Regions from separate parts of the Homo sapiens genome. Here region 1 is linked to region 2. The links come from fine-mapping of genetic effects on gene expression. A gene starts in region 2. The other region holds a variant in brackets. All regions are shown on one strand. Distances are from middle to middle.

Region 1 (2,920 bases), 86 kb before region 2:
TAAAGAGTTAAAAATATGACAAAATGAGATAGGAAGTAAATGAAGTTAAAGTCAAGAATCTTGCATTGTCAAATAATAATGAATAAATTTATTCACCTGGAAACAAAGAAACATGCTGTAATATCTGTAATAAAAATTTGGAAAAGAAAATATAACTGACTAATAGAGAATAAAATACGATAATAGGAATTGATTATTCCAAAAAACTCATGTAAAAAAGAGTTAACATAGCAGGCTTGAGGCTATCTTAGAAAGTCCTCCTTGCAAGTTTGGTCTTTGGCTGGTTTCTGGAAACTAGGCTTTTGAGAAGGTTCTTACCACCTTAACTGCTGAGGATGATTCACTGTGGCTAAAATGTGAAAACAATATGGATTAGGCCGGGTGCGGTGGCTCATGCCTGTAATCCCAGCACTTTGGGAGGCCGAGGTGAGTGGATCGCAGGGTCAGGAGATCGAGACCATCCTGGCTAACACGGTGAAACCGCGTCTCTACTAAAAATACAAAAAATTAGCCGGGCCTGGTGGCACACGCCTGTAGTCCCAGCTACTTGGGAGGCTGAGGCAGGATAATCGCTTGAACCTGGGAGGCGGAGCTTGCAGTGAGCCAAGATCGCGCCACTGCACTCCAGCCTGGGCGACAGAGAGAGACTCTGTCTCAAAAAAAAAAAAAAGAAAAAAAGAAAACAAAACAATATGGATTATACTGAATACCCATTTTCTTTCTGGGAGTCTGGAATATTGGTACGTTCTAAGTAGAGGGTGCCTAAGTTACCACCCCCAATAAGAACCCAGAGCACTGAGTTCTGATGAGCTCTAATGTTGTCTGCCAGGCATTTCACACGTCACAACTCATTGCTCGGGGAATTAAGCGTGTCCTGTGTGTTTCCACAGGTAGAGGCCTTTTGCACCTAGTTTTCTCTGAATTTCACCCATGTGCCTTTTTCCTTTGCCAATTTTGCTGTGTTTCGTTTCTTTATAGTAAGTCATAGCCGTGAGTATAACTATATGCTGAGTCCTGTATCCTCCTAGTGAATCATCTAACCTGATGGTGGTCTTGGGAACCCCCAACACAGAAGCAAACAGGAGAGAAGAGAGAACATAGGACAGGGAAGACAAGTAGAAAGAAGATATAAGCTTGTAAATGGAAACCCAATTATATTAGTAGTTATAGTAAACATATTTGAACCATTTGCCAAAATTGATGAAATGTTGTATCAGAATAAAAATATCAACAGATTTTCAGAGGAATCAATTTATACATAGTATTTTCTCTGTCCATAGTGGAATTAAACTAGACGTAAGTAATAAAAAAAAATCTAGGCAATCTTTATATGCTTAGGTATTTAAAAATGTGCTTCACATTACCCTTTGGTCAAAAAGTACAGATGCTCCTTGATGTACGATGGGTTCATGTCCCAATAAACTACATTTTCAATTTACGACAGGTTTATTGGGATGCATCCC[A/CA]TCATGAATTGAGGAACCTACTGTGAATGCATATGGTTTTCTCACCATTGTAAAGTCAAACCATCATTAATCAGAGACTGTCTATAATCAAAATTGAAATTAGAAAGTATTTTTAACTGAATAATAATGAAAATACCACATACTAAAAGTTGCAGGATTGGACTGATATTAGCAAAATAGCAGAGTAGGCAGCTCCCAGCTCCTGTCTCTCCTCCCAGCCCATCCCCCGACTACAAACATCAGAAAACAAGCAGAAACTCTCAGAACCAATTTTATAAGAAATTTGGGTAGCATTCAAAGGTTTATTGCAATCAAGCAAATGCTGAAACAAGAAAAAGCCTAAAAATGGTAGTAAAGTTCTGTGGTATCTTCACTTGCCCTTTCCTCATTCCCTCCTAGCTCAGAGGCAGGTAGCCCTTGTTCCCAATGCAGGACCCTGGTCCCTGGTTCAGGAGGAGCAGAGCAGATCTTATTCACAAATTGTTGGGTATATCTGTTCTAACCTACCTTGGGACTACGTGAAAAACTAACACAAGGCACTTATCTGTTTTACCTCACTCAGAACTCATTTAGGCCAGAAGAACAAATTGTATCTCTGATAAGGATTTAATATCTGAAATATATAAAGAACTCTTACAATTCAATAATTTTAAAAACCCAGTTCAAAAATGAACAAAGAACTTAGACGTTTCTCTAAAGAAGATGTTGAGTGAATGATAAGTACATGAAAATATACTCAACATTATTTGTCATTAGGGAAATGCAAATCAAAACCATAAGAAGAAACTGTTTCACATCTAATAGGCAATTTTAATAAAAGTAGTGGAAAATAATAGGTATTGCCAAGAAAGTGGGAAAATTGGAACCCTCAGAAATTGCTGGTAGAAATGTAAAATGATGCAGGTGCTATGGGAAAAAGTTAAACAAAGGATTACCATATGAGCCAGCAATTCCACTCCTAGGCATAAATATACAAAAAATTCAATAGTGAGACTTAAATGGATACTTGTATACAAACTTTTGGTGCAGCATTATTTCCAATAACCAAAATGTTGAAACAACCTGAATGTCCATCAGATGGGTGGATAAATGAAGTGTAGTATATATACATTATACAATATCCTTCAGTTATAAAAAAAAAATGAAGCACTGATACATGCTAAAATATTAGTGAACCTTGAAAACATTATGTTAAGTAAGCGAGACACAAAAGGACAATTCCTTGTATAATTCCACTTTTGTGAACTATCTAGAATAGGCAAATAGACAAAATGCAGATTAGGAATTCCAGGGGTTAGGGAGAGGGAAGAATGGGGAGTTATCGTTTAAGAGGTGCAGCATTTCTCTTTGGGGGGAATGAAAAAGTTTTGGAAATAGTGTTGATGGTTGCAGAACACTGTGAATGTAATTAACACCACTGAGTTGTACATTTAAAAATGGTTAGGATGGCAAATTTT
Region 2 (2,920 bases):
TGTATCCCTAAGGATGCACCAGAACCAGGTGCAAAATACACTCTCAAATAACTGAACAAATAAACCTAATCCAGGTATTTAATACTATATGGTTAATGATAATGAAAATAACCGTTTTGATTGAGGCATAGCTGATAAAGAACTATATATAGAAAACAGATTAATTTGCTTAAGTACACTTTTGAACTGGGATAATCGGCCCATTTCATCAGAGAGAAGAAGATATGATTATCTTCCTACTTGCTGTGGTAAATTGGTCTGTGTATAGTTCACCTAAACACAGTACCTTTCAGTTTTAATTTCAAATATGCTTATAGATCATATGTAGATCATACGATAACTCTAGTTTAACCCTCTGATACAAACTGCCAACTATTTCCAAATTTTAATCTAGTTATTTTATATTAAAACGGAAGGGAGTTGTTAAAAGGCACTTTTTTATAAGGGTATGTATGATGGCAAATAAAACAGACATCGCCTCTGCCCTTGGAACTTACAGTCCAGTGGAGACAGACAAAAAGGAAATTCACAAATGAATTTATTGTAACAAATTATGCTAATTAGAAAGAAAAATCACTGAGACAATGAAAAAGACCAACAAGGGAGCCTACTTAGCATGGTCAAGGAAGGCCACTCACATTACAGGTTGAAGGCGTGTGTGACTGTCTCTTTCCTGAGATAGAAAGAAAACCTGGAAGAGTTTTTGGAACTAAAAGGCCAGTGAAGCTGGAGAGTTTTAGGGGGAAAAGGGGAAGAGGGAATAAGATCAAATAGAGGAGGCAGGAGGAGCCACATCGATCAGAGCTTTTGAAATGCAACAGGAAACTACTGTAGAATTTTAAGCAAAGGCATGGTAGATCAAATTAAAAGATTACACTGGCTGCTGTGTGAAAACTTGGGGATGAGGAGTAGAATGGGCCAAGAATGAAAGCACCGTTGTCAGGATAGTTGTAATTACACTGAGAACAGATAAGAAAAGGAATATTTGAACGAGAATGGTAATTCTGATTGCAGTGGGAAGCATCCTTTCAATTTAGAAACCAACCTAAAGGAAATTTACACAAGGTAAACTCTATGAACTTGATATTAAGCGAAATAACCTAAACTATCAAGTGAACTAACTATTCGTGGCAATTCCTGCTACCCAAATAACTTCCAACAGTATCTTGCTGTTTACTTGGGCTACGTTTTAAATTAAACAACATGCTTACTTGGGCTAAATTTTCGCCCACTTCAAATATCTTCTAATACGCAGGCGAACTACTCAGATCAAAGACAAAGAAAGGATAAACGGCAGGTGAACGAGATGACGAGAAGGGAATGCTGCAGAGTGAGTGGTCCCGAAGATCCAGCCAGTCTCCAGAAAAAAGTACTTGTAAGCAGCCTCATTCAGATGAAAGAAAGAAGGAAAAGTTCAACCGCCGAATTTCTTACTTATATTCTTCCTCCAAGGCGAGGAGGTCGGGTCCAGGTGTAGAGGGTTGCTGAACGGGTGGCGGGAACGGAGTCCCTGGAACGCTGCTTCTCTGTAAAAGAGCCACAGACTTTCAGACCCGAAGTTAAAGGAAGTTAGGCGTCCTAGTCGCCGGAACCCAGACGCTCCCCAGGAGCCTGGAGTTGAACTGACCGTGAGACACAGACTTCGCCCCGCCATCTTCGGCGACTGCGACGCGGTTACCGAGGCAACGACGCATCTTCCCGCGAGAGTTTCCACATCCCGGTTGCCTCCCGCCCGGGCGCCTACGCCTTCCCACTCTCAGGTTCTGTGCTGCGAGCGGCGCGAGCCTCTGGCAGCGGGCTCGGCCTTTGCTCGCAGCACTCGGCGCTGTCCCAGGAACCCAGGAAGGCTTCCTAACTGCAAATTCGACTTAGTTAGTGCAAATTCTCAACTTGTGGGGGTTGAAAGAGTTTCAGCCAAAACAGGCAGGTCCTTTGCCGCTACTCTATAGAAAGCAAGCTGGTGAGGCAATCCCTCCCTGTTGTGCTTTTCAAACCGTTAGTGGCTAATCCGACCTTCACCCCGTTTGCTTAAAGTGAGCTCTTCAGTGGAATTCAGAAGTTTTGATTTCTAATTTTTGTTTACAGCATGCATGGCTAAGACTCAGGCTCTCAAGTTAGTCAACCTAAATTATTATCCTGGCACTGCCACTTACCAGTTATATGGCCTTGGGCAAATCACTCTGTATATCGGCCACTTCATTTGTCAAATGGAAGTGAGAATAGTGCCCACTTCACAGTTATTATGAGAAGCAAATGAATTCGTGCTTAGGATCATGCCTGAAACACGTAAGCGGTTAACAATTTCAATTGTTTTGGAATAAAATTGACATCCAAAAATAAACCGTGATATGATGTATGGTCATCTGATCTTTAGAAAGGGTGCAAGACCATTCAATGGGAAAATAATTGTCTTCAACAGATGGGGAGACAACTGGATATCCAAATGCAATTAGACCCTTAACTTCACACCATATACAAAAATTAAAATGTATCAAAGACCTAAACTTAGGAGCTAAAACTCTAAAGCTCTTCAAAGAAACTGTTGGTGTAAATCTTTATGACCTTGAATTACAATTCTGAGAATCCTTGATGGATTCTTAGATATGACACCAAAAGCAGTAGCAAAAAAAAAAAAAAAGAAAAGAAAAAAGAGGCTGGGCACAGAGGCTCATGCCTGTAATCCAAGCACTTTGGGAGGCCAAGGCGGGTGGATCACCTGAGGTTGGGAGTTCAAGACCAGCCTGACCAATATGGAGAAACCCCGCCACTCCTAAAAAAAAAAAATTAGCCGGGTGTGGTGGCTCATGCCTGTAATCCCAGCTACTGGGGAGGCTGAAGCAGGAGAATCGCTTGAACCTGGGAGGCAGAGGTTGCGGTGAGCTGAGATTGCACCATTGCGCTCCAACCTGGTCAACAAGAG

Which allele goes with the higher level. Alleles are on the strand shown, and positions count from the first base shown. SD is a standard deviation of normalised expression in the study named.
With allele CA in place of A in region 1, the expression in tibial artery of the gene that starts at base 1,679 in region 2 is higher (small effect, 0.31 SD a copy in GTEx).

What was found. PIP is the estimated chance that this variant, and not a neighbour inherited with it, causes the effect.
Region 1: its variant is the best candidate, but not a certain one, in a credible set for the expression of TEX9 in tibial artery (GTEx, PIP 0.70).

What each region holds. Positions count from the first base shown.
Region 1 is chr15:56,450,273-56,453,192 of GRCh38, reverse strand. All of the region lies in intron 3 of MNS1 (meiosis specific nuclear structural 1), which reads left to right. It also overlaps a transcript of TEX9 not described here. Among named protein-coding and RNA genes, the nearest start is that of MNS1, 13 kb to the left of the region's middle. The variant A/CA (reference allele first, on the strand shown) is at 1,464.
Region 2 is chr15:56,364,185-56,367,104 of GRCh38, reverse strand. TEX9 (testis expressed 9) reads right to left here and starts at 1,679. Exons shown (of 12, transcript NM_001395496.1): 1 at 1,628-1,679; 2 at 1,435-1,526. The coding sequence starts at 1,654. RefSeq lists enhancers at 1,386-1,435, 1,976-2,025, 2,036-2,215.